Linked DNA regions of Homo sapiens. The protein of the gene in region 3 purifies or fractionates together with the protein of the main gene of each other region. This does not show direct contact. Each region holds a gene or a part of one and is shown on either strand. Other genes may lie near its edges. The genes, in order: VCPIP1, TRAP1, DND1 and EMB.

Region 1 (7,603 bases), on a different chromosome or scaffold from region 3:
AATTAAATTCATCTTACCCATTAATGTTGCTAAAAGACACAAGGAGTACATTTCTTTTTCAGCTTGCTCCTGAAGTTCCTTAGATGACAGTTTACCAGTAACAGCAATATCTTCTTGTTTCACAGTGTGGGCTGAGTGTGCTGCAGCAGACTGACCACCTTCAGCTTTACTTTTTAGAATTTCTATTGTAATTCTGTCGCCATGCTGTAAAGGAACTGGTTCCTTTTCCATTCCTGCCTGTGGTGGCATTAACTCTTTAGGAGGAAACCCGTATCGAATACACTGTAAATATGGAGGAATGTTGAATTCTCTGGCTATACTTTCCTGAAGTTCAAAAAAGGTTGTTGAAGACTTAAGGGTAACCATGGACTGTCGTCCATCATTAGTTGTGATTCGGATCTTCTTCTCCTTAGAAGTTGTCGGTGAATAGGGAGCCTTGGTAGGTGTAGCAGGTGCAGAGGATGGACCATCACGAATGGTACTGGGAGAAACAGTCCTGGGTTGCCCTTTTTGTTCTTGTTTTAACTTCTCTGTTTTCCGTTTCTGCATTACAGAAGCCTGTTCCGTAATATTCTGTTGAATAGTTCTTTCAGTTTTACTCATGTTTAACTCCTCCTTGTGCAAAGTTTTTGTTTTCTGTCCAGTAAGAATAATTTTAGTTGGGAGCTGAGACTCTGATTCTTGTCCTTGAACATCTCCAACTCTTTGGGCGTGAGCACCATCTATATTTACAGGAGTATAATCATCGGGATTCTTTTTGGCAGTCTGATGCAATATAGTGTGGACAACTTTCTGAACTAGGATTTCACTCCCAAATTCACCTGGAAAGTGCTTGGTAACAAGTTTCATTGCAACATCGTAAACATTACTATTCAAAGATGAATCACTTTCATACTGGAACCAATATACTGTTTCTCTGACCACTCTTCCACCCCATTCTAAAGTAATAGGGAAAGCTTCTGGTAGATTGTCATACTCCTTACCATCCCAAAAGTGTTTGAATCCACAACCACATTTGCCACCAGTGGACCTAGAATTAGTTCTGTCTCCATCCAAATACACAATAGACCCATCTCCTCTGACCTTTCGCACAGATGTGCCATGGCACCAATTACAAGCTGTTAGGTTACTCATTCCATAGTCTGGTACCAGAACATCTTTCACTGAATCATATGAGCAAACCAAATTGTTCAAGGGAAAGCTGTAATTTTTGTCAGTCCTCAGCTGTCCATGAGTACTTTTTGCCAGGTTATACAATTTCCCTCCAGGAGCCAACCACTCTGGAGGAACATGAAGTTCAGAAAGGGCACCACAGAGCAAACATTTGTGAAGGCGATTATCCATTACTGCTTTTTTAGCAGCTGCTGTGACTTCCTCAGGCTGAACTCCTATCACTCCAGTCCTTCTGTAGAAATACTGATGGACATCAGCAACCAAACTAGGATGGATACCATGTTTGTCCATAAAGACTTCTTCCATAGCAGCAACAAGCCTAAGTAAGTATTTATCTTGCAAACTTCTGTCACCTCCAATAACACAACCACCATCCTCTTCAAGTTTTATGTACTTTTTAATAAGGTCCTGAGGCACACCCCATGCTTTAGGAAGCAAATTCATAGGCAGTTTGGGCAAAGCAGCCCCTTTTATGCCTACCAAGGGGATATAATGGTTTCTACCGGAGCTGCTCCATGCAATACAGATTGGTTTGTTCAAATGACCATCTTTCCCAGTGCACTTCTCTGCAGGGATGAGCCCAGGTAGAAAGGTGGCTGAATAATCACCAGAGCTTCTCATGCCACTGAGGGAATCTAACAGAATAATAGGACGATGTAGCACATTGGCAAGACCAAATATGTGGATATTCCTCAGGCCCAAGGGAACACCCTCAGGTGGTACAAACAGAGGGTCACACTCATTGATAATGTCCTCCCACTCAGCAGCATCAATGAAGTCATGGAACAGAGCTTGATATCGGGCCAGGTGCTGCTGAAAGTGCTGTTTAAGATTCTCTCTTAAGGCATGCCAGAAGAGCTCTCGGCCTACTAGAGCCCGAGACACAGCATGCACCAAGCAGTGTCCATCCCCGTCCACATGCACTGGAATGAGACATTCCTGGCTTTTATTGGCCCGCTTAATGTCCTCCAGAGTGTCATGCAAATACAGGAGGCTTCCGGAGCGGTCCTTGCCATAGCCCACAGTGTTAACATGCTCTGGTTCTATGAGGAAGGCGCGGTCACCCAGTAAGGCGCAATCGAACAGTTCGCCCTGGTTCATGTCCCGGAGAAGCTTGGCCCGGCCTGTCTGTTTGTCCATTCCATAGCGAGCTAATATGGGCGACAACAATTTGCAGTGATAGTTGGAAAGGCCCATCACCTTTACCAGTTCCGTGTTCTTCTTGGGTGCCCCCGTAACCCCGAGCAGCGCGTTCCGCAGCAGGTTGTGTAGCACTACGTCCGGGTCGGTCACCTCCTCAACCCCCAGCAGCTGTTGCTGCTCGTGCCGCTGGCCGCACTCGGTACACTCGATGCTGACAGAACCGGAGGCCGGGAAAAATAGACGCGCCTGACACTTCGGATCCGGGCAGCTCCCGGAAAGGATTCTCCGGTCTCTCCGCTTCAAAAGCCCCCCCGAAGCAGCCGCCGACGCCAAGGACGACGGAGTCTGTGGAGCCTCAGGGGGAGGAGGTGGCGGCGGCAACGGAGGCGGCGGCGGCGGCGGCTGAGACATAGCTCCTGGCTCTCGTGTCTCGCTCCGCGTCCCAGGCGACCCTCAAAAGCTCATAGCCCAGACCCCCACCAACCCGACTCGGTCCAGTCCAGGCCCAGGGCGAAGCACTTTCCTTTCCCTACCAGCTCTTCCTCCTCCTAAGCGAAGGCGGAAGCGCCGGACGTTGTTTCTCTTCTTACTTCTCCACTGCCGTAGCCGTTGCCCCGAACGTAACGGCCACCACCCCACCCCGCACTCACACTCACTCACTCTCGCTCTCTCTCCCTCAGACACAGACATACACGCCCTCATTGAGTGTGCGCAGGCGCAGCTTCCGCTCTGCCCTCTGGGAATTAGAGTCTTCCAGCCTCTGTGCTGGCCATCAAGCCCTAGGATCTTGAGTCCAGAAGGAACTACAAGTACCGTGAGGCCAAGCGGTTCAGCGCTAGAGGAGAGGAGGAAGAGGACGGCAACAGGAAAAGGGGCGAAAGAAAGATGGTGACTCGCGTTGCCTGCCGGTAGTTGTAGTTTTACTGGGCTCTCCTTCGTCGTCTTCCCCACTCTGCAGCCCAAGGCAAAGAGTCTGAGAGACCACATTTCCTAGGATGCCGTGCGGTGCGTCTAGCTGCACTTCCTCCTTAGGCGGAGGGGAGGATTCAGGGAAGCTTGGTTAAAAACAGTTATGGCAGTGGGAGTCGAAGCGAGGGTCTGAAGTTCACGACTACTAGAAGGGGAGGGGAGTGGAAAGGCTCTCAGTGAAAAAGGTACAGTAAATAAATGTCCAGGGATATTGGGGGCTGGGAAGTTGAATAAATGGTCTAATCTAGGCTGGAGGCCATAAGGGGGAAAACAGTTGATTCTCGGAAGCTCTGCCTTCTCCCCCTCTCTAGTGCGAATCACTGAGGCGCCATTTGATTTCTCGTTTCCTGCATGTTTTGGCAGTTTACAGTGCAAATAACGGTACCTTGGATGTCTGTAGAGTTTTGTGTGCATATACAAATTCTCTTAACTAGGTTTAATTTCATTTGCTCTTTACCACCCTACTCCCCAGAGAATAATAAGAGCCATCATGTGTTAAGTTCTTAATATGTGTCTGGACAGCATTTGCATAACACGATATCATTTGATCTTAAAAAATAACCTTCTTAGGAAACAGGCCCAGAAAGGAAATGACTTGCTAAAGTTCACGCAGCTGATAAGTGAGTGGATAGACATTCAGATCTCAACCTGTCTTCTTTTTACAGATCAGGACATAGGCAGGAAAGGTTAGGCCTGTATTACATAGAATAGTAACTAGCATTTGCTTACTATTGCCTTATAGTTTACATATTTAATAATATGTTCACATGTATCATCTCATCCTCACACCAGTCCTGTAATACCTTTACCAGGTGGTGTTGACTTCATTTACAATCAGGGAAACTGAGACTAAAAGGAATTAAGTGACTTGCCCAAGGTCAAGTCACCAGTTATGCTGGATCCCAATCTCAAACCTTGAGAGTGATTTTTACGCTGCTGCTTACCAAAAAATCCCGGCCGGGCGCGGTGGCTCACGCCTGTAGTCCCAGCACTTTGGGACGCTGAGGCGGATGCATCACGAAGTCAGGAGATCGAGACCATCCTGGCTAACATGGTGAAACCCCGTCTCTACTAAAAATACAAAAAAATTAGCCGGGCGTAGTGGCGGGCGCCTGTAGTCCCAGCTACTTGGGAGGCCGAGGCAGGAGAATGGCGTGAACCCGGGAGGCGGAGCTTGCAGTGAGCCGAGATCACGCCACTGCACTCCAGCCTGGGCGACAGAGCAAGACTCCGTCTCAAAAAAAAAAAAAAAACCCAAAATGTTAGGCTCAAATCTTTTGCTAGGCCTTAGAGTCTCCTCTTAGTGATGAAGGGATGTTTAATGTTAAGGAGGCAACAGCTTTATTCTTTTTTCACTTGGGTAGGAAACTGCCTCTTCATACAGAACAATATTCATATGTTAATTGAAAGCTAGTATTATTTTTGTACATTCATCCTCTTTCACTTATTACGGAAATTCTTGCTTTCTGGAAGTTTAGTATCACCTTAGGTAAGTGGACTACCTCAAAATTTCTGAAACATTTGGCACCAACTAGAAACATTAGTGAAGTCCATGAGATCATTTGAGTCTTCTGTAGCTGCCCAGGAAACCGCCTGATTAGGTTGTGTGTGTGTGTGTGTGTGTGTGTGTGTGTGTGTGTGTATGTATGTATGTAGAACTTGATGCTTTGAAATGAACCATCTGCAAAATAGAGGCCCATAAAGGGTATTAGTTTTGATGTGCACCTAATTGCTACAATTTTCTTGAAAATAAATATTTGAAAGAGAAATCCTCCATAATGGACCTTAATTACAAGAGAAGTGATTTTTCCTATCTTGGGATATTTTTCTTTCTTTTTTTTTTTTTTTTTTTGAGACAGAGTTTCACTCTTGTTGCCCAGGCTGGAGTGCAATGGCGTCATCTTGGCTCACCCCAACCTCCGCCTCCCAGGTTCAAACCATTCTCTTGCCTCAGCCTGCCGAGTAGCTGGGATTACAGGCATGAGCCACCACGCCCAGCTAATTTTGTATTTTTAGTAGAGACGGGGTTTCTCCATGTTGGTCAGGCAGGTCTTGAACTCCTGACCTCAGGTGATCCGCCCGCCTCGGCCTCCCAAAGTGCTGGGATTACAGGCGCAAGCTACCGTGCCCGGCCGGAGGGGGTATTTTTCAATAAAGTTTTTCTCAGAGAATTCATGCAAGAAAAGTTGTTTATTCTAACAAGTTTGGTGGTAACTACACAGATTGGTTTTGGCACTGATTTTTTATTAACAGTTGAATGCTTTATAAGTAGAGAAATTGGGTATCTCCTTTAAGTGGAGATTATTTTATGCTGTGACGAAAATGTTACACCTGCAGTGAAAGTTTTTCTCATACAGAATCCAAATAATTGAATTAAAGCTTTGTAGCACATGAGATGACAACAGTCTGCAATTCTAACACTGTCAGGTACTTTTATATCTTAACAACACCAGGCCAAATTTTTCTTATTGATGATACATATACATAGTGAAGTAGATTTTTAAAATTGTATTTGAATATGTCATTCTGAACCATACTATGACAAAATAATCACTTCCCACCCCACTGAAGAAATGAGAAGCCTTTTTCTGGCTTGTCTAGATCATTTAATAAGTTTGTAGATGCACTCAAAGTTCAGAAAGAAAGCTAACATAAAGGGGCAATGAAATTAACCATGTCAAGTTTAATATGTGAATTAATTCTTTATTACTAGCACTTAGAAGGCATGGATACCTACAAAGAAAAAAAATTGTTAGGTCAAAAATAGGACATACTGTTTCTTATAAGACCGGAGGAGTGTAGAAAGCCTCTCCTGCTTATGCAAGATCTGCAGGCTTCCTTCCTCTTTTCCTCCCAAATTCCATGATCTTGCCTAATGAAGATTAACTTAACTACCTAATTAACTTTCACAGGATTTTTGTGGGGTAGATAATAGTTCTTGTTTTTAGTAGTCCAGATGAAAAGAATAAGCTGGGCCTCTGACATTAGCTGTGCTGATACACGTCTCTTCTACCACCATCACCCCAGCATCACTAATACCTAAATTGCCAAAATTCAGTTAAAATAGAAATTCATCTTTTTCATAGTTTCTAGTATGGCACTTGTAAACTCCCTATATTGCTTTTAACAAACTTGGTAAATGTAAATGCAGAAGTCATCCACTTTTACCAACAGAACAACCATCATTGTTCTTGATCTTTTATATTTTATATATATAAGGAAGGGAATCATAACTTTGGGGATTGCTGTAAGTTGGCCACATACCTGCCTATATAAACTATACATCTTTACCAAGAATTGACTGTGTTCTTCCAGACCCGTGCCACGTATAGTCAGACTTCCAGTCACAAGCTTCGACTGAAGCTCAAAGTGGATTTGGGAGGGACTAATTATTGAAGTAGGTATTATAAGAATTTAAAGGGATGCAAAATTTCATCTCTGTCTCAAAGAAGCTTAGAGTTTAATAGAAGAGGGAGGCTAAACTAAATTGTTCATAAATATAAGTAGAATAAAGCATGTAATCAAAATAATACAGGAAATATCACAAATGCTATGAAAATTTAATTGAGGGCAATTTATTATAGGGCAGTGTTTTGAGTATATCATCTTAATCTTTAAAACACTCCTGTGATACAGTATTGTCCTTATACGGATAAGATTTAACTCTAAAAGGTTAACATCGTTTTTATTACCACCAGCTATGAAATAGAGCTGGGCTTCAAATCAAGGTTTTCCTTGTTCAGCACTCACTCTTTCCACTACATCACAGCTGCTTACTGATTTGAGAGAGAATTAGGCAAGAAGTCAATACAAACTGGTGACCAGTAGCCAAACTTGGCTTGATGTAGTTTTGTTGGGTCAGCAGGAGTTTAACTTTATTTTTTTTGAGATGGAGTCTCGCTCTGTCTCCCAGGCTGGAGTGCAGTGGCGCGATCTCGGCTCACTGCAAGCTCCGCCTCCCGTGTTCGCGCCATTCTCCTGCCTCCGCCTCCCGAGTAGCTGGGACTACAGGTGCCTGCCACCACGCCCGGCTAATTTTTTTGTGTGTATTTTTAGTAGAGATGGGGTTTCACCGTGTTAGCCAGGATGGTCTTGATCTCCTGACCTCGTGATCTGCCTGCCTCGGCCTCCCTAAGTGCTGGGATTACAGGCTTGAGCCACCGTCCCCGGCCTTTTTTTTTTTCTAATGTGAATGTGTTTGAGCAGTGGCCAGTATTCCACTCTTTAAGACCTTACACCAGGGCCCCTTGAGACAAATGACCGAGTACAGAGCTGCAAGTCATTCCTTCGCACAGTAGTCCTCAAGCTTTAATGTGCA
Region 2 (7,020 bases), on a different chromosome or scaffold from region 3:
TGCCCAGGCTGGTCTTGATCTCCCAGGCTCAAGTGATCGTTGTGCCTCCGCCTCCCAAAGTGTTGGGATTACAGACGTGAGCCACGGTGCCTGGCCCTTTTCAGGATTTTTAATCAAGCCTGAAGTTACGTGTCCATCTGTTAATTATAACTTTAAGAAGAGCCCTCTGGCTGGGGTTGGGGGCTCATGCTTGTAATCCAGGCACTTTGGGAGGCTGAAGCAGGTGGATCACTTGAGGTCAGGAGCTCAAGACCAGCATGGCCAACATGGCAAAACCCAGTCTCTACTAAAAATATTAAAATTAGCTGGGCGTGATGGAACACACCTGTAATCCCAGCTACTCAGGAGGCTGAGGCAGGAGAATCGCTTCAACCCACAAGGCGGAGGTTGCAGTGAGCCGAGATGGCACCACTGCACTCCAGCCCCGACAGAGAGAGACTCTGTCTCAAAAAAACAAACAAAAGAGGCCTGCGAGGAACAATTTCTTTCCCAACTCCTGCACAGGGATGACGGCATATCACTCAAACATCCATTTCTCCTTGATATGGTTTGGCTGTGTCCCCACGAAAATCTCACCTTGAATTGTACTCCCATAATTCCCACGTGTTGTGGGAAGGACCTGGTGGGAGATAAGTGAATCATGGGGGCCGTTTCCCCAGTACTGTTCTCGTGGTAGTGAGTAAGTCTCATGAGATCTGACAGTTTTTTGGGGTTTCTGCTTTTGTGTCTTGCTCATTCTCTCTTTGCCTGCTGTCATCCATGTAAGACGGGACTTGTTCCTCCTTGCCTTCCACCATGACTGTGAGACTTCCCCAGCCACATGGAGGTGTAAGTCCAATTAAAGCTCCTTCTTTGGTAAATTGCCCAGTCTCAGGTATGTCTTTATCAGCAACGTGAAAATGGACTAATACACTCCTACTCCACAAAAACAGGTTCCCTAGCTTCATCTCATCTAGTGGGGACCACCAAACACCAGGTCTACCACACCCGGAGAAAAACAGGCCTCAGGGCCCAGCTGTCCCTCAGGAGCTGAAAAGCACACTGACCTCAAACAGACCTTCCATTTAAAATCAGTGAGAGAGGCCGGGTGTGGTGGCTCACACCTGTGATCTCAGCACTTTGGGAGGCTGAAACAGGCAGATCACCTCAGCCCAGGAGTTCAAGACCAGCCTGGGCAACACGGCAAAACTCCGTCTCTACAAAAAAATACAAATATCAGCCAGAGGCTGAGGAGGAAGGATGGCTTGAGCTCAGGAGGCGGAGGTTGCAGCGAGCCGAGATCATACCACTGCACTCCAGCCTGGGCGTCAGACCCAGACCCTGTTCCAAAAAATTAAAAAACCAAAAAAAAAAAAAACAAAAACCCACACAATTAAAAATAGAAAAATTAAGTCCGCAAGAGCACATAGGTGAAGAGGAAGCGGTGGCTGATCTGGGCGGAAGCTGGAGGTCACTGGGAGTCAGGAATGCAGCACTCATCAGTACGAAACCCGGAAACAGCTCCTAGAAGGCCCTCTGAGCTTTGAAATCTGCTGCTTTACAAACTTTCTTCAGGACTCTCCTTTGCCTTCCAGCAATAATCAGCATGTCAACGATGGTGGCCTTCATCTTTCTTTTTCCTTGTCCTGTCACCCCAAATGAGTTTTGCGGGGTTTTTTTTAATAGAGATGGGGTCTCTTCACGTTGCCTAGGCTGGTCTCAGACTCCTGGACTCACACAATCCTCCTACCTTGGCCTCCTAAAGTGCCGGGATTACAGGTGTGGGTCACCGCACCTGGCCCCAAATGCGTTTTAATTTCCTCAGTAACTCCTCCCTGCTCCATACACACAGGACTGGGGAACCTTCTTCCTCCGGCAGCCAAAGCCGCCAAGACCTGCAGGTAGTCCCACCAGGCAAAGGGGCCTCAGAGCGTATCCAAAGCTCCACAGAGACGGAATTCAGCAGAGCTGCACGCTAGGATTTGGGGGACTTTTTTTTTGGAGAGAGGGTCTTACTCTGTTGTGCAGGTCAGTGTAGTAACACAATCATGGCTCACTGCAGCCCCAAAGTCTGCCAGGCTCAAGTCATCCTCCCACCCCAGCCTCCTGAGTAGCTGGGACCACAGGTCAGTGCCCCCATAGCTGGCTAATTTTTTAAATTTTTTGTAGAGACGGAGTCTTGCTGTGTTGACCAGGCTGGTCTCAAACTCCTGGGCTCAAGTGATCCTCCTGCCTCGACCTCCCAAAGCACTGAGTTCCCAGGCATGAGCCACCACACCAGGCCTGTATTTCGGGAACTTTTAAAATTATTGGCAAAATTCAATTAATTCCCAGAGTTGATCCAGCCCAAAGAACCATCTGGATACACTTATCCAGGAAACCAAAACAGATTCTGGTAAAACTCCTCTCACTGGTAGCTTAAGATGAGGACCTGTCCAAAGTTTAATGCTTTCTCACAGCTAATATATTATCTGGCAATTCTCCAGAATGGCATAAAAACCAGCTTTGTGAAAAGAAACTTTGCTAGCATCGGGCATGGTTAGCAGGGAACGCACCTCTTTTTCTGAGTACAGGGACCGGGCAACAATGTCCAAAAGCTTCTTTGTCTCGGCCTGGAACTCATGTTTGGAAGTGGAACCTAGTAATGAAACACAGACACAACCAACAAAGTTTAACTTCTATTTTTGTGCAAGAATACGCTACGTCACATTCCAAAGAAAGCTTAAGTTTATGAGTTTTAAACTTTTTTTTTTTTTTTTTTTTGAGACGGAGTCTCGCTCTGTCACCCAGGCTGGAGTACAGTGGCACGATCTCGGCTCACTGCAAGCTCTGCCTCCCGGGTTCACGCCATTCTCTTGCCTCAGCCTCCCGAGTAGCTGGGACTACAGGTGCCTGCCACCACGCCCGGCTAATTTTTTGTAGTTTTAGTAGAGACGGGGTTTTACCATGTTAGCCAGGATAGCCTCGATCTCCTGACCTCATGATTGGCCCGCCTCGGCCTCCCACACATTTAAGATCATGAACAAAAAGAAAGAAGCAGACAGAAACAAAGTCTGGCTGGGCACCATGGCTCATGCCTGTAATCCCAGCACTTTGGGAGGCCAAGGCAGGAGAATCACTTAAGCCCAGGAGCTCAAGACCAGCCTGGGCAACACAGAGGGATCCCGCCATCTCTACAAAAAATACACAAAGTAGCTGACGGTGGTGGCACACACTTGTGGTCCCAGTGACTCAGGGGGCTGAGGTGGGAGGATCACTTGAGCCAGGGAGGTCGAGGCTTCAGTGAGCCATGATTGCACTACAGCACTCGGCCTGGGTGACAGAGAAAGACCCTGTCTCAAAACAAAACAAAACAAAAAGTCTCTCAGAAAGGAGGTCTCAGGGCAGGACAAATCCTCCCACTGCTGAGGCCAGACATGCCTCGGGCTATGTCGAGGGAATGCTGAGCCTGGTTTCCCAATGTGCATGGTTACGAGAACTGGACTGCCTCTAAGAACCAGATTATATGTTCTTTCTTTTTTTTTTAGAGGCAGGATCTGGCTCTGTTGCCCAGGCTGCTATGCAGTGGCAGGATCGTGCTCACTGCAGCCTCAACTTCCTGGGCTCAACCGATTCTCCTGCCTCAGCCTCTCAAGTACCTGGAACCACTGGTGTGTGCTACCATGCCTGGCTAACTTTTTAATTTTTTTCTGTAGAGAAAGGGTCTATCTTGCCCAGGTTGGTCTCGACCACTTGGCCTCAAGCAATCCTCCTGCCTCGGCCTCCCAAAGTGCTGGGATTACAAGTGTGAGCCACTGTGCCTGGACTATATTCTTCAAAAAAGCGGTTTCCAAATTAATTAGTTAGAAATCAAAATAACAAGAAAACCTCACTTCTCTTTTTAACTTCAAAGATTCTACTCTTGTCGACCCACTTAAAAGCCAGAAATGGAGCCACTTCAGGACTGGCTCCAAAGACTGCTTTTTTATACTTCAGAGGGAATGAAAAGACAGCTCCAGAATTCGGTCCTGCGCAGACTGGGCCAATGCTGAGTTTCCCCTCCCGCTTCCATGATTATTAGCAGATGTGCCATGAATCACCACTCAGGGGAGGTGCCGGACGGCAAACTCACGGGTGGCCACCAGAGGGGGCAAGACACACCCGACACTGGCAGAAGTCCCTCGCTGGGACAGAAATGGAGGGCGCAGCACTCCCTACAGCCAAGACCTTCTGATTTCACACCTAAGGCGGTGGCTCTACCAATCACTGCCTCCACCCTGAAAATGCCCCTTTACGCACAGCAGTGAACCAAAAAGCCCTCCCAGACCAAAGCACGAGCCAAGGCTACCCTGCACGCTCTCTGTGCTGCTGATAATCGAGTGCAGGGGTTCCTCCTTGTCCTCGGCGGTCTGCGTGCTGAACAGTCGTCCTGCCTGCAAGCTCCAGGCTGGGTTTCGCCTGGGGCCCAACTGGGCTGTGGTCCTCCGAGGACACAGAATTGGTTTTCCTGAAAAGACAAATATGCAGAAAGAATGAGAATTAGGAAGACACGAGAAACAATATGGTAATTCGTCCCATCAAGGGTGTCTAGCAGAAGCTAGCGTGGACATCTCTAAGTCGGGCTGTTGCTGAAAGAGAAATCCACAGGACCAAATGCCACAGTGTCAGGGTGTGGTTTTGGCAAGGAGCCCTCACAGATGTCATCAGTGTAAGATACTGTGTCTTCTCAGAACCGCAGAAGCGAAACTGGAGGGGGTGGGCTGCTGCCTTCTTTTCAGAGGGGGTCTCGCTCTGTCACTGCGATCACAGCTCACTGCAGCCCCAACCTCCTGGACTCAGGCAATGCTCCTGCCTCCGCCTCACGAGTAGCTGGGACCACAGGCACAGACCACCATGCCCCCATAATTTTTTAAAAAATTTTTTGTAGAAATGGGGTTTTGCTATGTTGCCAAGACTGGTCTCGAACTCCTGGGCTGAAACCATCTTCCCGCCTTGGCCTTACAAAGAGCTGGGATGACAGGCGTGAGCCACCATGCCCAGCTGGCAGATGCCTGCTGACAGCACTTCCCACATTCGCCTCACGGGTGACACCTCGCATCAACCTACCAAACTGAAACCTGTCTCGACCCTCGCAGCCCCTGCAGAAGCCCCCGATGGGCCACACTTCTTTGCTCTTGACAGTCAAGCAAAAAAAAAATCCTCCCAAAAGGGATCCAAATATTTAAATGTTAATATTCTGAAACTGTCTCATCTTCTAAAAGTTGATTCTTTCCCATTGCTTTTTCATCCAAAACAGATTTTTTAAAAAAAATTTGTGTACTTTAAAAACTGAAAAACAGCTGACGATGGGTTCTACCTTCTAACTAAGAAGGAGACTTGTCTTCTGTAACTTCCTGCTCAGTCCAGTGGGCTGAGAAAGTTGCCGGCAGAGCCCAGCGAGGGAGGAAAGCAGCCAATGTGTCCCCAGCCGCACGCAGTTCACCGACGCAGGCCCAGAAACCAGACACTTTCACTCCAACACAGGACTGGACCGACCCAACACCAACACCCACTGACCCCAGGGACCACATACCAGGACCCTGCCTTGGTCAGTAGATTTGCAATACGTGATGGTGTCAAGGATATGTGGCCAGCCAGCCACGCCGTGTCAAAGTCTAAGCCTAAATGAACCGCATCTAACTGGGAGCCTCTCCTGTTCTTCACAAATTTGTAACAAGTAGAAAGGAAAGACAACAGAATATCCAGGAATCAAGGTTTTAAAAATCAGCATATCAGCCAGGGGTGCGGTGGCTCACGCCCGTAAACCCAGCACTTTGGGAGGCTGAGGTAGGCGGATCACATGAGGTCAGGAGTTCGAGACCAGCCTGGCCAACATGGAGAAACCCCATCTGTACTAAAAATACAAAAGTTAGCCGGGCATGGTGGCAGGCACCTGTAATCCCAGCTACTCGGGAGACTGAGGCAGGGGAATGGCTTGAACTTGGGAAGTGGAGGTTGCAGTGAGCCGAGATCGTGCCGCTGCACTACAGGCTGGGTGACAGAGCAACATTCTGTCTCAAAAAAAAAAAAAAATTAACATATCAACTTTCATACTCCTAAAAGGTACAAAAACTTGCCTTTTTTTTTTTTTTTTTTTTGAGATGAAGTCTCACTCTTGTTGCCCAGGCTGCAGTGCAATGGTGCAATCTCGGCTCATTGCAACCTCCACCTCCCGGGTTCAAGCGATTCTCCTGCCTCAGCCTCCCGAGTAGCTGGGTTTACAGGCGCCTGCCACCACACCCAGCTAATTTTTGTAGTTTTAGTAGAGACAGGGTTTCACCATGTTGGCCAGGCTGGTCTCGAACTCTTGACCTCAGGCGATCTGCCCACCTCAGCCTCCCAAAGTGCTAGGATTACAGGCATGAGCCACCGTGCCCAGCCAAAACTTGCCTATTCTTTAGGCTTATTCCTGGACTTACAAACAGCACAAACCTGGCCTTTTGTTTTTGTTTTTTTTTGAGATGGAGTCTCGCTCTGTCGCCCAGGCTGGAGTGCAGTGATCTCGGCTCACTGCAACCTCCATCTTCTGGGTTCAAGCGATTCTCCTGTCTCAGCCTCCAAAGTAGCTGGGACTACAGGCACCAGCCACCATGCCTAATTTTTGTATTTTTAGTAGAGACGAGGTTTCACCTTATTGGTCAGGCTGCTCTCGAACTATTGACCTCAGGTGATCCACCCACCTAGGCCTCCCAAAGTGCTGGGATTACAGGCGTGAGCCACCATGCCCGGCCAACCCTAGCCTGTCTTTATCTCTATGCAGATACCTTAAAAACATCTACCACAATTCAGAAAGTATTCAAATTCCAAACCATGTAAACATCCAGTTATTTGGGCCCATGTAATTGCATTGTTCACTTTATTCGTACAGTTAAAAAAAAAAAAAAAATCCCGGGACATTTCTTCTGGAATTAAATGGTATTTGGCATTAGAGGAGTTCGCGAACAGTCTACATCAAACCAGGGTGCTGAAGTCTCTGTGCCTCCTTCCAAAGCACAGCCAGCCCTGGGGGCACAGGAGGGAAGT
Region 3 (7,735 bases):
CTGGTCTCGAACTCCTGACCTCAGGTGATCCACCCGCCTCAGCCTCCCAAAGTGCTGGGATTACAGGCAAAAGCCAACACACCCGGCCTGGATATGAATTTATAATACCCTACAGTGCAACACAAGAAGATGCACTCAAAGCACTGATGTGAGGAAGTACTTGCCCCGTAGCAGCTATTCACTCTACCAGTGTAAACAAACTCTAAGCTAGGGCAAGACAGCACAGACACAAGTATATACTAACCAGGGGTTTAATATAAATACAACCAGCATAGAAAGACCCAAAACTATACAGAAACCAAAACCAGAATGCCATGTGGTGGAGGCAAAGGGCAGAATTTCTGACCCCTTTGGCTCAGCTGCCCTTCCCCACAAATAAAAACCAACAAAGAGGACAAATCAGGACAATAAAGAAGATTCATGCTAAGCTGTGGCAGAGGGGGGAAGGTATGATCGGGTGGGGGTGGGACAAGGAACGGCCATGGAAGATCACTGGGTCAGGTTGGACCCTGGGCTGGGAGCGGGAGGGCAAGGCCCCTCACCACAACTTAACCCAAACCTAAGCTGCCCCCAGGTGCCATAGGTCCCTGTCCCAGCAGGGAGGCTGATGGGCCTGGGCCCATGCCCCTCCCCACCTTTGGGGGTCAGAAAGTGGCCACCCAGGCCTGCTGGGATGGGGCCTGACACAGGCTCTGCATGCCCATTCAGGGTGCCTGTGGAGAAAGAATGGAGTCACTGTTTAACCATGGTACCTGCCTCAGCCCCAGCAGACCACAGGAGGTTGGCCCCAGACTCACTGAGTGCCTGCAGCAGCCGTACAGACACAGCATCCTTGGCCACCTCATGCCCATCCCGGCCATCTAGGGTCAGCACAACCCAGATGAGGCCGCTGAAGGGCACCGGATGCCCAGGAATCACCACCTGGTACCAGAAGCGGTGCCAGCCAGCAGGTCCTATGCCCAAACACTTGGTGAGGAACACAGGGCTGCCCAGCTTCATTCGTTGGCACAGCAACTGCAGGGTAGCCCGAGCCCCTTGGAACCCTAACTTGTCCCTTGCCAAAGCCAACTGGCTGCCCTCTGGCTGTGGGGACCGCAAGAAGGGACCCACAAGCTGCTGGCGAAGTCGCTGCTTCAGGTCTGGCTTGAGCCACTCCACAGCCACCTGCTCTCCACAGAGGTGTGACTGCCCTGTAGGAAAAATGCAAAGACAAGGGCAGGTCTAAACCCTGGGCCCAAGCCTCCAGGTGGTGAGCCCTTTGGAGCTACACAGTCCTGTTATTTGTAGCCTTCCCATTTCCTGGTAGTGTGACCATGGGTAAGAAAAGACAATGAAGCCTTCAGCCTCCATTATTTGCAAAGGGAGTATAACACACTGCTACCTTACAAGTTTCCTTGGAGAAGTACTGGTTAATTGCAGGCTTTGTCTGCCTCATAACCATCATAATGGCTAATCTTTACTGGGAAAACTTGCTGTAAGTCAGTCAGTGTGCTAAGTACCGTACACCCATTATGTTACTTAATTCTCATAACAGTCTGAGGAAACAGATTCTATAGTAGTAAAAAGCTCAGTTGGATTCCCTTGAGCAAATCAATTTCTCTAACAGTTTCCTCATAGCTTGAGGGTCCTGTGCCTATTTTGCGGTGTGGGGGTGGGGGAAGGTTGAGAATTAAGTCAGGAGGTAATGCTCGGGAAGTGTCACAAATTTAGGTAAGCGGTGGTGGTAGCACCATTGGAAGTTTTAAAAATCTGAGATCAAATAGTAAAAGGTTGCAAATTCTGGCATGTTTGACTCTAAGATCTTGTAACTTTAACAGCTATGCTCAGTATAAAGTGCCGGGCAGAACGCGTTTGGCCCCAACCAGCACCCCCGCCCCAGCCTACCTTCCACCAGGGCCTTTTTGGCCATGGCAGCGGCCCGGTGCGAGCTGAATTTGAGCAGAGCGATCTGCCCGGGCGCCGGTCCGGGGCTGGGCAGCAGCCGCGCCTCCTGCAAGCCGGGACCCAGCGGCTGCAGCGCGAGCAGCAGCGCGCTGCGGGTCAGATTCGGCGGCAGGCCGTCAACGCTCAGCTCACACTTCTCGGTGCTGCGGCACACGAGCAGCGGGCAGGACGGCCGCAGCGGATGGTTGTGCAGCGTGGCGATGGCGGCCTGCGCGCCGCGCCTCGAGCTGTAGCGGGCATAGGCGAAGCCGCGGTTCAGGCCGCTGAAGGTCATCATCAGGCGGAACTCGTAGAGGCGGCCCACGCGCTGGAACAGCGGGATAAGCTGGTGCTCGTACACGTCCTGAGGCAGCCGCCCGATGAACACCTCTGACCCAGCTGGCGGCGGGCTGCCCACCCAGCCTGTGGGAAGAGGGTATGCAAGGCCACCGTCAGGCGACGCTTTCGAATTCTGAGCCCACGGACCCAGCGCGCGGGGGTGGGAGGCGATGTGAACAAAGGTCTGTGAAATGGGTTTACACCCGTACCCTGGGTGGTTGGCATAATTAGGTGACTGCGCTAACAAGGGGGCTGGCACAGAGTAGGTACACCTTGAGATTGGCCCCCTCCCTCGACGGGGCGGGTGGACGTGGAGCCACAGTTCCTCCTTTGCTGGGGGGTATAAATCCGGGTAGTTCGCAGTTTCTGACAGTGAAGGCTCGGAGCAGCCCCTCCCCCAAAGGGGGCTGGTGTAGCCGGACAGGCGGAGGGGCTGGGACTACCGTACCTGGGGGTGGCCCGCCATACTTCCTCTGCCCGTTCACCTGCACCAGGCGGATGCCTGTCTCCCTGACCCACGCCTCCAGCGCCGCCTTGTTCTCTGGATTCACCCTCTCACACCACAGCTGAGAGGGAAAGGAAGGTTGGAATGGCGGATCGCCAAGCGCGCCCCCACCTCTCCTGTGGTACTGGGGTCCCTAAAGCCGACCCCCGCTCCGGCGGGGCTCGCCGGCCCCCAAGTCGCCAGCCGCTTACCTCACAATCCCGCTTGGACTGCATGGCTCTCCAGCTGGCCCCCTCGTACCCTCTTTATAACTTCCTCCCCACCGGCCTCTGGAAGCTTCCCTACCCCTCCACCCCGCAAGCTCTCATTGGCTCTGAGCGCGACCCCGCCTCCCAGGGGGGTGGAGGTATCCACTGCACGTGCGCCGCCCGGGCTTCGCTCAGACCTTCAGGTGAAAGCTGCAAAGTCGCGGGTGCGTATGTACGGGGGCTGCCTCCCGAGGAGGAGCTCCCAAGCCGCAGGGTGGACGCTGGAGACAAGAACCTCAGGGTCACAAGTTTACTGTTTTTCTCCCTTTTCCATCCCTACATTGGTCTGCTGGGGAAGGCGGGGCTAGGCATCACTGACACACGCAGACTCCGTGGTTGAGGCATTTTATTGGACCTTTGGCAATTGGTGGTGGGGAGGCATCTGCTCCAACTGGTGCGGGGCCCTGCAGATGGGACCATCTCAGGCTGGGTCCTTGTAGCCCAGGAGCACAGACTGGACTAAGCCTCCTGGGCCTTGTATGAAAAAGGTGTTGTACCTGGCCGTTTTTGCCAGTAATAATCAATAAAATAACCATAATAAAAATCAAAGGCTCTGTTCTGACCACTCTTCAGGTCTTCCGCTGAAACGGAAAAGTGCAAAGCAATTGAAGTACATATGCAGTTTGTCTTAACCTCAAATAGTGCCAGTCCCACTTCCTTTCCTCTGATAGTTTGTTCAGTTCAGCAGATGCAGAGGGGCTGGCCTGTTCTCCTTTTGATTTCCTCCACAAGGTCTTCTCTTCGGACATCCACCTGGCCAGGATGGGAGAAGAAGGTGGTATAAGCATCTTCCATTCCACTGCTCCCCGAGTGCCTAGTTTCCTCTAGCCCTCTAGGCATCAGGCTTGTCTCAGCTGGGAGCAGGAACCTAATTAAACACCTCAGGCTAGAGTGTGCCTCTTGGGGGAGCCAACAAACCATAAGGTATATGCAGGGATGGAGATCTCACCCTACTAAGACCACAGTAACAGGTTAAGCCCTCAAGGCTTTTATGAGTTGTACTAATATCAATGCCAGGCTTTTTCTCAGGTCTTGAATGGGCATGGGCCTGCCAAAATGGCATACATTCTCTGTCCCTTAGCCTTCCTGCCCACCTCCCTCACCTCTTCCCTGCTCGTCACTGAACGGAGCTTGATGACCCCATCCTTGAGTTCCTGCTCGCCGATGATAGCCACCAGTGGGATGCCTGCCTCCTCACAGTACTGTAACTGGTTCAGTAGCTTTGGGTTCTTCTTGTACAGCAGCTCAGCCTGCAGGGGACAAGAGCAGAAGATGAAGGCTGGCTTCTGCTGTCCTCAGGGACAGAGGGTGTCCAAGCTGGCACCCTGTTCTTAGCTCTACTTTTGAGAAGTAATGGCAGGATCCATTATGGGTGAGCTTTTATTCAGTTTGTGTCCAGCACACCTAAGTTTGCTGCCACCCTGGGGCTTGCCTCCCATACCTTGATCCCAGCATCCCACAGTTCTGAGACAAGCTTTAGTCTTTCCTCTAGCAGCTTCTTCTGTGCAGATGCCACAAGCACCTGTGTCTCCGTGGTCCGTATCTTCTCCTCCAAAGCCTGGGGAAGGGGCAGATAAAAGAGAGCTGGGCTAACACCTTCAAGGAGCAAACAAAGCAGGCTCTAGTCGGGATTTTGAGACCAGGCCCAACTCAGCTCTACCAGGGCAGGGGCCCTGTCTTCTCATCTAGCACCTTGGGCATAAAGGTAGCTTTTAGTAGATATGAGGACTGAACTGACTGACTTGTACATAGGACGTATCAGAATAAATAACTTAGGGCAAGAGTAAAGGTAGCTTTTTTACAGTAACTTCAAGCTTATCTCCATGTAGTACCTTTTTTTTTTTTTTGAGACAGGGTCTCTGTCATCCAGGCTGAAGTGCCGTGGTGTGATCACTGCAGCTTCGACCTCCCAAGCTCAAGTGATCCTCCCACCTCAGCCTCCTGACTACAGGCACACACCACCATACTCAGCTAATTTAAAAAAAAAAAAAAATTTTTTTTTTTAATCTGTAGAGACAGGGTCTCATCATGTTGCCCAGGCTGGTCCATGTAGTACCTTAAGGGTCCACCAAAGCATTCACACAGAAGTACTACTATGAGCCCACCCCAATTAGATCACCCTTGACAGTTTTAGTCCCCACTTACTATCTACCCATTTATGACACTGTGCCTCTCACACTTCAGTTACAGGGCACAGGCGTGTATATGGGTGTGGGGAAAGGAGAATGCTGCTGCTGCTTCCCTTGTCTTTTTCAGGAAAACTATTTTCATAGTTCTTAGAATGTAAGATGCCTACTGGAAAAATGATCTCAACTGGGAAATGGGTGGTTTCCACCCTAGAGAAAAGGCATAGGACTGTGGGGAGGTTGCCAGAGCATTTCCCAGAAGATGAAATGCAACCAGCCACTTAAGACCAGCAGCAACAAAGGAGGGCTTGAGGCTACAAGAGGCTTCCTTGGTGTTACTCTAGGTGCTAGAGAGTCACGGTAGCCATCTGAGGGATCCCAGGGCCTCAGACACATGCTTCCCATTTAGAGACAGTATTGCAGTGTGGTTAGTGGCAAGACTTTGGAGTCAGACTGCCTGGATTCAAATTCTGACCCTACCACTTACAAGTTTCATGGCCTTAAGCAAATTATTTGATCTATAATGCTTCAGTGTTCTCATCTGGAAAATGCAATTAATAAAATTAGCTACTCTCACAGGGCTGTAGTAACAATTATATTTTGATAATGCATGAAAAGCACCAAGCACAGTGCCTGGCACAAGGCAGTAAAATGTTAAGTATTCCGTATCATGAGGAAGATCTAAGTCTTGGATACACCAGCCCAGGTTTGTGACAGCCCTGAAGGAAGTAGAGACCCAGAGCAGAGGATTGAGTGCAGAAAGATTATGGATTAAAGATCCATAAAACTTACATATAATGGGGTAGAAATCTGTGAAAAAGAGCAATAATCTTTTCTCCATTTCTGTGAGATGCTCCCTGCCCAAAGCAGCACCACTTGCTCCCTTGGAGATCAGATAGCTTAGGTGCCACCACCTGCTCAGACTATCTTCTACCTACCTCCTAGGACCTACCTCTAGTCTCTGTTCCACGATGGAGAAAATCCGCTCCACCCCAATGCTGAGCCCCACACATGGCACCTTGCGCCCTTTGGGGTCGAACATGCCCACTAGCCCATCATAGCGTCCTCCAGCAGCCACACTGCCCACACCCAGGGGCTCTTCCCCTGCCTGGGCTGGGGTCTGTAGCAGCACTGCCTCATAGATCACCCCAGTGTAGTAATCCAGCCCTCGAGCAAGGCTCAGGTCAAAGGAGATCTGTGGAGATAAGAAAATGGTCAGTGCCAGATTAAGATCAGGGACCTGAAGCCCCAGAGCTCAGAAGGGATCCCGTCCCCAACTTGACTCACTTTGTCATCAATGCCAAATAGGGTCAGGTACTCAAAGAGCAACTTCAGGTCTCCCAGGCCCTCCAAGGCCTGCTTGTTTTGGGATAGTTTAGGATCCTGGAGCAGCTGTTCCACCAGGGATACCCCACCTGGGGAGACAGACTTGTGAGTGAGGCTGACAAGGAAACAAAAAAGGTAAGGAGGGTTGACCTTCTTGCCTGGACTCTAGTCGCCCATGCATGTGTGTGTACATATGCATAGACACACTCACTCCCCTACATACATAACACAGAACAGTTTCAACTTTAGGACTGAGGGCAGTGGGACGGCTGCTGGGGAGGCTTGGTTCTGTTCCTCACCATGTTGCTGGACATAGTCCCCAATGCGGTCAGCCACCTCAGGTGCAAGGCCCTTCTCTCCCACCATCTCATTCTTCACCTCTTCCCAGGACACCTAGGCAGACAGACACCAGTCAGGGACCCCTGGGCAGCTTCCGCACCACAGAGCAAGTGTGTACTGTCCTCGGGGAACCGTTTTAGAGCAGTAGCTGCCCATGAGCCTACATCCTGGGGCTAACCTTCCTCTGGTGGGTATAGAGGCATGCACCTCTCTCTCTCTCAATCTTGTTTTCCATTTCCCAAGGCAGGGTGGGATCTGGGAAAAGAAGTCAAGTACTTGGGTTGTTACCTTGTCCAGCTTGTCTACTGAGGAGCAGATGGTACGGAACTTGCTGTCAGAAACACCACAGATAGCAAACATCCCATCTAGAATGCGTCGATCGTTTACCTGCAAGGAACCAATGCATAGTGAGGGGGGAATCTCTTTTCTTACATGACCTGCAATAGTCATGGTCACTTAGGCTACTGGTCCCTCTGCACAAGGATCTTCTCTTGTGAGAGGCCAGGCCCAACTTTGCCCTCCCAGCCTTGTCAGCTCTGACCTTGACCAGGAAGTCGCCTATCTGAAGTGAACTCAGGATCTCGCACATGATCTTCAGGCACTCTGCATCAGGGATCATGGGATCAAAGTTCCCAGCAATGTCAAAATCCTGCAGGGAGAGGGTTAGCCAGCGGTCTTCAGGGATTCACCTTTCTGAAGGGGGGACTCTGGGAGCTCTGTCCTCTAGGAAGGCCTGGTTGCACTCAAGCATAGAATTTCTCTTTCATTTTCTGATCATCAGCCCAGAGGTAAACCCCGGCATCTTTGGGCTTCTCACCAGTTTTGGTTTCCTTTCCATCTACTGGGCTATTCCTTCATTTTCTACTTCATCATCTTCTTAACTCCTCCTACTGGATGGGGTGATTATATGGCTTTAGTGCTTAGCCATT
Region 4 (7,575 bases), about 90 Mb from region 3:
TTTCTTCATCTTGAGCCCAGAAGGTCAAGGCTGCAGTGAGCCGTGAATGTGCCTCTGCCCTCCAGCCTGAGCGACAGAGTGAGAATTCCCCAGGAGTGCAGAGGTTCTCAGAACTGCAATACTCTGAGATGAATTTTGAAAGGTGAATCAGGGATAGAAGAATTAGGGATACCCAGAAAGGAGAAAAATGTTCTAGACAATTCTTTTTTCTTTTTTCAGCTGGAACTAAAAAAATGCTAACTCATAGGGCTATACATTTATAACTATTCTTATTATTAAAATTTGACTCAAAGTCTTAGGTTAACAGACAACCTGTGTCTAAGTATGTAGGCCTATACATCTAGGTCAAAAATATCCAGTAAACCTCACAATATCCTTTGGCAAAGAGAAAAATGAATTTCCCAGAGATCAATACCGAATCTAGAAAACAAGCTGAGAGTGCCTGACAATTTTTAATTCTGGCTTAAATTCGATGCTAACTTCATAACTTTTGTCTTGTACATTATTCCACAATTTTAGCTTACGTGGAGCTAAAAGAGCAGAACTTATACCATATACATAGAGTGACATCCCCTCCCCCATTCATCTTATTGATTTACACCTTCATTTATTCCACTTTCATTTGTTTCCTACCTTTTTTTTTTTTTTTCCTTTAGAGATCTTCTCTGCATATCAACTTAACCCTGACGCCTATGGAATAAGTATTTACCTAACAGTGCACTGTCTAGGCCATATCATTTTAAAGCTGTGGTTTTTAACCAGCTTAAAATCACATTTAAAGCTACATGGAGAGCTGATGAAACTCCTTAATGCCCACACTGAATCCCAAGCCAAATGAACCAGAGTTTTGCGGGAAAAGATCCAGGTATCAGGATTTTTCAAGCTCTCTGGTGATTCTGACATACAGTCAAGTAGAGAATCAAAGTTCTACAATGAATCCAGAATGCACTGGTTCTCAGAACTGCAATACTCTGAGGTGAACCAGGGATAGAAGAATTGGAGATACCCAGAAGGGGGAAAAATGTCCTGGACAATTCTGTTTCTTTTTCTTTCTTTTTTTTTGAGACAGTTTTGCACTGTCACCCAGGCTGGAGCTTAGTGGCACCATCACCATCATAGCTCACTGCAGCCTCAAACTTTGGACTGAAGCAATCTTTCTGCCTTGGCATCCCAAGCACCTGGGACTACTGGTGTACATCACCACAACCGCACTTTTAATTTTTTTTTTTTTTTTTTTAATAAAGAAGGGACCTTGCTATGTTGCCCGGGGTGGTCTTGAACTCCTGGATTCCAGCCATCCTCCCACCTCAGCGCCCAAAAGTGCTGGGATTACAGGCCTGGACAATTCTTTATAAGTGGTATTATGGAAAAGAGATGTGGCACAAGGAAATCTGCGAAGGAACCCACGATGTTCTGTCCAAGTTGTTAACAACTAGACGTTTTAAAAGGCATTTATAAAAATTAATAGTCTTACCTTTTGATTATCCTTCCTTCTCTATGGTGTGTTACAAAAATTCCACATCTTACAAGCCCATGAAAATAAATTCCCATGAGAGTTTGAAAACTTTTTGCAGAATAATGTCCCAATTTTAGTTACTGGTGGCCAATATTTACCAGCTTGAGAGGTGGTCTTTTATTACCCTTACTGGCTGGTAACATTTATGACACAGAAACTTGCAATAGGTTGGATGGAATCCTTTCAATATGAAAAGTAATTATAAACAGGTGAAGGTAGAATGGCAACTTTCGTGTTGGCTTTGTTAATGTTTTGCACGTAATCCCTCTGTCAAAGTGTCTTAAACAATAAAACAACAAGCAAAAATCTCACACATACACACACACACATGCACACACACATTTTGTTTTCAAAGACCACGGTGTAAAATGAAGATACACACACGTTATCCTGTAAGTTGTGGATCTTTGGTTGGCTAGTTGGTTATGATGTTTTTTCCCCTACTCAGCTCTAAAAAAACATCCTCGGCAAGGTGAGGTGGCTCACGCCTGTAATCCCAGCACTTTGGGAGGCCGAAGCGGGCGGATCACCTCAGGTTGGGAGTTCGAGACCAGACTGACCAATGTGGAGAAGCCCAGTCTCTACTAAAAATATAAAATTAGCCCGGCGTGGTGGCGCATGCCTGTAATCCCAGCTACTCTGGAGGCTGACAGAGGAGAATCGCTTGAACCCGGGAGGAGGAGGTTGCGGTGAGCCGAGATCACGCCATTGCACTCCAGCCTGGGCAACAAGAGTAAAACTCCGTCTCAAAAAAAAAAAAAAAAAAAAAAAAAAAATCCTCAAAGCCAACCCACCTGCCAAGAGGAGGGAAGGAGGTGATACTCGAGCCTTACTCTCGAATCAAGAAAAGGGAGTAGGCCTTGGGGAAATGTGGCTTTCAAAATTCATGCCATATTTGCCCAAGCCAAGTCGCTAGCTGGTCCCTGCAACCACCCACACACCCCACTGCCTTCTTCCTAGGAAAAACCAGACTCTGCCCTGTTACCTACGCGCCCGACTCGCGGGGCGCTGTTCGTTCAAGACTCGCCCCAAAGAGCGCAGGAACGCGAGCCGCAGCAGTTTCAGGGTTCAGCTTAGGTGACACAAACGTAGCTAATGGGAGGCCGCCGCCGACTCTCCCACCCGCCCTTACCAGCATCCCCGCGCCTCTCCCCGCCACCCTTGCCCGGCGCGCCGGCGATGCCCTCTGCCCGCGGGGACCCGAGCCTCGCGCGCCCTCCGCCCTCCCTACCCTGGACCCTGTACCCATCACACCTGGGGCACTGCCGTCCGCCGAGCTTGGGCGCGCGGCAGCGAGAAGGCACTGGAGGAGGAGCAGCCGGGGCGTACGCGCCCTGGCCTCCAGCAGGCCGGGGAGGGCGCGCATGGCGCCAGAGGGTCCGCCTGGGTCCTCGTGGAGACTGCTCCCTCAGCTCGCCGCCGCGGGTGTCCAGAGTCCCTGCGCACACTCGCAGGTGGCCCGGCGCTCGCAGCCAGTGCCGCGGGTAGGACGCTGAAGAAAAGGCGGAATGGGAGGGGCCCGGCCGCCTTGCCCCACTCCCCCGAGACGCTCTTACCGCGCCCGGCCCTCCATCAGTTATGCAGCCCTCAGCCGGCTGCTGGCGTTCCCGGATGTGCGGTGGCGGTGCTACTTCCCGGCTGCAGCCTCTCCGGCCTCCGCCCTCTCGGCTCTAGCAGGTCGGGAGAGAGCTTGGGCAGGTGATGTCTAGCCAATCTCGTGGGGAGAGGTCGAAACTCTGCCTACAGACTGGCCTTTGCACTTCACCTGAGGCAGGTTTCACTAATTTGCTTTGATGGGACAGATGAGAAACACTTTTCTCCTCCCGGACCCCGGACATCTTTGGGCTTTCTTACGAGGGAGGCTTATTTTTGCGCAGGTGTAAGGTTTTATCCAGCTGCCAGACAACTTGTGTTAATCTTTCTTTGCTTTGCCTACCAATCACACACATTCTCTCTTCTAGTCTCTGAAGGCTTAACTGATTTTCTCCGGATGAAGGTTTTAGAGTCCCAAGGCCCCATACCGTGTCTGATTTTACTTTATTTTTGTTTGTTAAGCCTAACAGCTTCTGAGGAGCCACCTAGAGCTCAAGAAGCAAAAGCTACTGAGAGTAGATACTATGTAAACTGCACAAGACATTGACCTTTGTTAAATCCGAACACTCTTTAAGATAATGCTCTTACCCACAAGGCTGTAGCTTGGAATATTCAGTGCTCTGAACCAAATTAAATAAATTAGTGCTTTATCCGGGAGGGGAGGAGAAATCTATATTGTAACATTGAAACACATTGATTTGATTTCTCTCCAGGATGTTATAACGCATTAAAAGATATTTTTAAAATTTTTCACGAGCTTTGTTTCCTCTCCCTTTATTTTTTTGAAGTTCAGCTTTCACATTCGTAAATTCAAAATATATCGGCGTTAAAAAAAAAAGGATTGGAAATAACATGAGACAAATTTTGAAAATTGAGCTATTTAACAAAACCTGTGTTTATTCCAGGCAGGAATGGTTAATTTGTAATTGGTACGTATTACTAAAACACGTCTGTTTCTGGTTTAGTATTATATGCACAAAACTTTGGAAACAGAATGTAGATTCTTCAAATTGGCAGTGAGATAATATGAATAATACAATTCATTCAACAATATTATCTACCAGGTGCCAATCTACCATTGTGTTCAAAAGAGGCTAGATAGGCACACATGCACAAATGCACGCATGCACACATGTACACACACACACACACAAATTAGACAACTGTTTATCTGTGAATGACAAATCTCAGAAAAGCCTCTTCTCAGAAAATTATGGTCAAAATTATTAAAATCTTCTGAATGAAACTTTAAAAGATGCCTTCAAGGACTAAATCTTATACACTGTTGACCCTCTGAGGGCATTGACTGGGCTTGCTAAACCCAAATTGCCTAATCAATGGCTGCTACATCACACCTCTTTCTTTCAACCCTGCATCTGGTCTCAGGACTAACTGCACACATTTCCCTATAATTAGGTAGAGTGTCAACAGTAAGCACTTCTCACCTCAAACTAAACTCTGACTGACTTTTCCCAGTTAGTCTCATAAAATCCTTAGACACAAATTCACCCTTCTTAAAGAAACATTTTTTTCAGTTGAATCAGCCTATTTATGACCAGAAAAACTTACTTACCCAAGTTGATGCTGATCCCCACTGTTGCTTTTGCTGTTGGAACAAAAGAGTTGAGAAAGAAATATAATTCTCATTTTGCTAAGCATTTTGAAAGTCTTTTCATCACTGTTCCTGTTCTATATTTAGATATTTGATATTTCCAGCCTTATGTACATTCCACTTTTTCAAATGCTCCATATCCTTTAAAACAAGCTTATTGACTGCCTTCCCTATATAACTTTTTCTATCCCTGATTCACCTTTCAAAATTCATCTCAGAGTATTGCAGTTCTGAGAACCTCTGCACTCCTGGGGAATTCTCACTCTGTCGCTCAGGCTGGAGGGCAGAGGCACATTCACGGCTCACTGCAGCCTTGACCTTCTGGGCTCAAGACGAAGAAATTGGGGATTGGCTTAAGTAATTGCCCAAGTAATTGCTTAAGTAATTGCCCAAGTAATTACACATACTTAGTTAAGCAGCAGAGCAGGAAATTTGGCATTGGTCCATCCAGTGCCTGTTTTCCTAAACACAGTGCTTAAACACAATATCCAGTTGTCTCTCCGAGCTAATTGGAAATGTCTATGAAAGTTCAGAACTACTGACAGCATAGCCTATGCATCTAAATGTCTGATTTGCACTGAATGACATGCTGACACAGTTTGAGTCCTGGAATAAAATTAGGTACAGGGACTCTTTTAAGGTTTTTTGATTAAATAAGACATATAATATATCTTTGTAAAGGACATATCAGTGGGAGTATTTAAATATCATTATTATTACTATTACATGACACAAATTGGAGAAATGGGTCATGTTTATCTTTTGAAAAATGTTTGCAGTAGAATCATTTAAAATGATCCTTTAACTTCCAGAGGACGTGGCTTTTGCATTCCCTTTATGAACCCCCTTCCCTACTAACCTCTCACCCCAAACACAGCAGCTTTCTAGTAATAAATATTTTTGAAGCAAATACTATTCAAGCACCCACATATGTCTGACATTGTTAGTCCATATCTCAGTAGAACATGCTGGCAGTTTTTACCTTTAAGGACATTTAAAGGGGTTCCCACTGGACAAATCTGGGACAAATTGAGCATCAAATAAATAATAATATTAGTGGATTGCAACTCAGGGATAGAAGTACTGGGGATACCCAGAAGAGAGAAAAATGTTCTAGACAATTCTTTTTTCTTTTTTCAGCTGGAACTAAAAAAATGCTAACTCATAGGGCTATACATTTATAACTATTCTTATTATTAAAATTTGACTCAAAGTCTTAGGTTAACAGACAACCTGTGTCCAAGTATGTAGGCCTATACATCTAGGTCAAAAATATCCAGTAAACCTCACAATATCCTTTGGCAAAGAGAAAACTGAATTTCGCAGAGATCAATACCGAATCTAGAAAACAAGCTGAGAGTGCCTGACAATTTTTAATTCTGGCTTAAATTCGATGCTAACTTCATAACTTTTGTCTTGTACATTATTCCACAATTTTAGCTTACGTGGAGCTAAAAGAGCAGAACTTATACCATATACGTAGAGTGACATCCCCTCCCCCATTCATCTTATTGATTTACACCTTCATTTATTCCACTTTCATTTGTTTCCTACCTTTTTTTTTTTTTTTCTCTTTAGAGATCTTCTCTGCATATCAACTTAACCCTGATGCCTATGGAATAAGTATTTACCTAACAGTGCACTGTCTAGGCCATATCATTTTAAAGCTGTGGTTTTTAACCAGCTTAAAATCACATTTAAAGCTACATGGAGAGCTGATGAAACTCCTTAATGCCCACACTGAATCCCAAGCCAAATGAACCAGAGTTTTGCGGGAAAAGATCCAGGTATCAGGATTTTTCAAGCTCTCTGGTGATTCTGACATACAGTCAAGTAGAGAATCAAAGTTCTACAATGAATCCAGAATGCACTGGTTCTCAGAACTGCAATACTCTGAGGTGAACCAGGGATAGAAGAATTGGAGATACCCAGACGGGGGAAACTTTTTCTGACCTTTCTGGTCCAAATTGACCTTTTCCTCCTTGGTGAAATAAATATTGCAACAAGCACTTTGATACTCTCATCATGAAGCGTATAAAGGGGGAATAAGGGTCCTTTGTTTTCTCCCCTTGAGTTGGGTGGGCTCTTTGACTCCCCTAACCTACTGAATATTGCTGAAGAGATACTGTGTGGGCTGGCCAGGCGTGGTGGCTCGCGCCTGTAATTCCAGCACTTTGGGAGGCTGAGGCAGGCAGATCACAAGGTCAGGAGCTCGAGACCAGCCTGGCCAATATGGTGAAACCCCGTCTCTACTAAAAATGCAAAAAAAAAAAAAAAAAAAAAAAAAATTAGCTGTGCATGGTGGCGCATGCCTGTAATCCCAGATACTTGGGAAGCTAAGTCAGGAGAATTGCTTGAACCCAGGAGGCAGAGCTTGCGGCAAGCCAACATCGCACCACTGCACTCCAGCCAGGGCAACAGAGCAAGACTGTCTCAAAACAAAAAAAGAGAGAGAGAGATTGTGTGAGCTTTCTGTTCCAGACCACAAGAGCTTCCACTTCCTTTCTGTTGGAGATCTTGCTCATAGAAGACACCTGCCTAGTGAAAAGTACTACAGTATTATCCTGAGACTGCCACACTGTGAGAAACCCAAACGCCATGGAGGACCCCGTAAAAATAAAGTCAGGTCAAGTAAAAAAGGAATATGAAGGTTTATTATACATACAGAAGAATAGTTCACAAACCAGAAGACTTCAAATCAAAAATAGTAAGAAACTTGACGTGAGAGTTACAGTGCAGCTTATAAAGCATCAATGAGGAAGTGCATTGACCTCTGCTGTGACTGGCTATTAAAAACATATTCCTTTTTGGGCAAGTAGAGTTGTATAAACTTATTTATCTGTAACAAATTGGT

Evidence for each region.
Region 1: the proteins of DND1 (region 3) and VCPIP1 purify together in Homo sapiens (affinity purification with mass spectrometry; 3 studies listed by BioGRID and IntAct, with this or other methods). This does not show direct contact.
Region 2: the proteins of DND1 (region 3) and TRAP1 purify together in Homo sapiens (affinity purification with mass spectrometry; 3 studies listed by BioGRID and IntAct, with this or other methods). This does not show direct contact.
Region 4: the proteins of DND1 (region 3) and EMB purify together in Homo sapiens (affinity purification with mass spectrometry; 3 studies listed by BioGRID and IntAct, with this or other methods). This does not show direct contact.

The regions. Positions count from the first base shown.
Region 1 is NC_000008.11:66,664,232-66,671,834, forward strand, and holds the start of VCPIP1 (deubiquitinating protein VCPIP1), read right to left. Parts: upstream 3,001-7,603; 5' UTR 2,728-3,000; coding exon 18-2,727; intron 1-17. UniProt on the Homo sapiens protein: Deubiquitinating enzyme involved in DNA repair and reassembly of the Golgi apparatus and the endoplasmic reticulum following mitosis. Necessary for VCP-mediated reassembly of Golgi stacks after mitosis.
Region 2 is NC_000016.10:3,686,521-3,693,540, forward strand, and holds part of TRAP1 (heat shock protein 75 kDa, mitochondrial isoform 1 precursor), read right to left. Parts: intron 4,466-7,020; coding exon 4,307-4,465; intron 2,618-4,306; coding exon 2,535-2,617; intron 1-2,534.
Region 3 is NC_000005.10:140,670,561-140,678,295, forward strand, and holds DND1 (dead end protein homolog 1), read right to left. Parts: upstream 3,017-7,735; 5' UTR 2,983-3,016; coding exon 2,959-2,982; intron 2,829-2,958; coding exon 2,711-2,828; intron 2,347-2,710; coding exon 1,885-2,346; intron 1,786-1,884; exon of another isoform or gene 1,191-1,785; coding exon 733-1,190; 3' UTR 234-732; downstream 1-233. Other genes in the region: HARS1 (histidine--tRNA ligase, cytoplasmic), read right to left, coding at 3,697-3,768, 4,119-4,265, 4,457-4,573, 6,094-6,336, 6,429-6,556, 6,767-6,860, 7,095-7,193, 7,348-7,455.
Region 4 is NC_000005.10:50,438,270-50,445,844, forward strand, and holds the start of EMB (embigin precursor), read right to left. Parts: upstream 3,020-7,575; 5' UTR 2,883-3,019; coding exon 2,771-2,882; intron 1-2,770. UniProt on the Homo sapiens protein: Plays a role in the outgrowth of motoneurons and in the formation of neuromuscular junctions.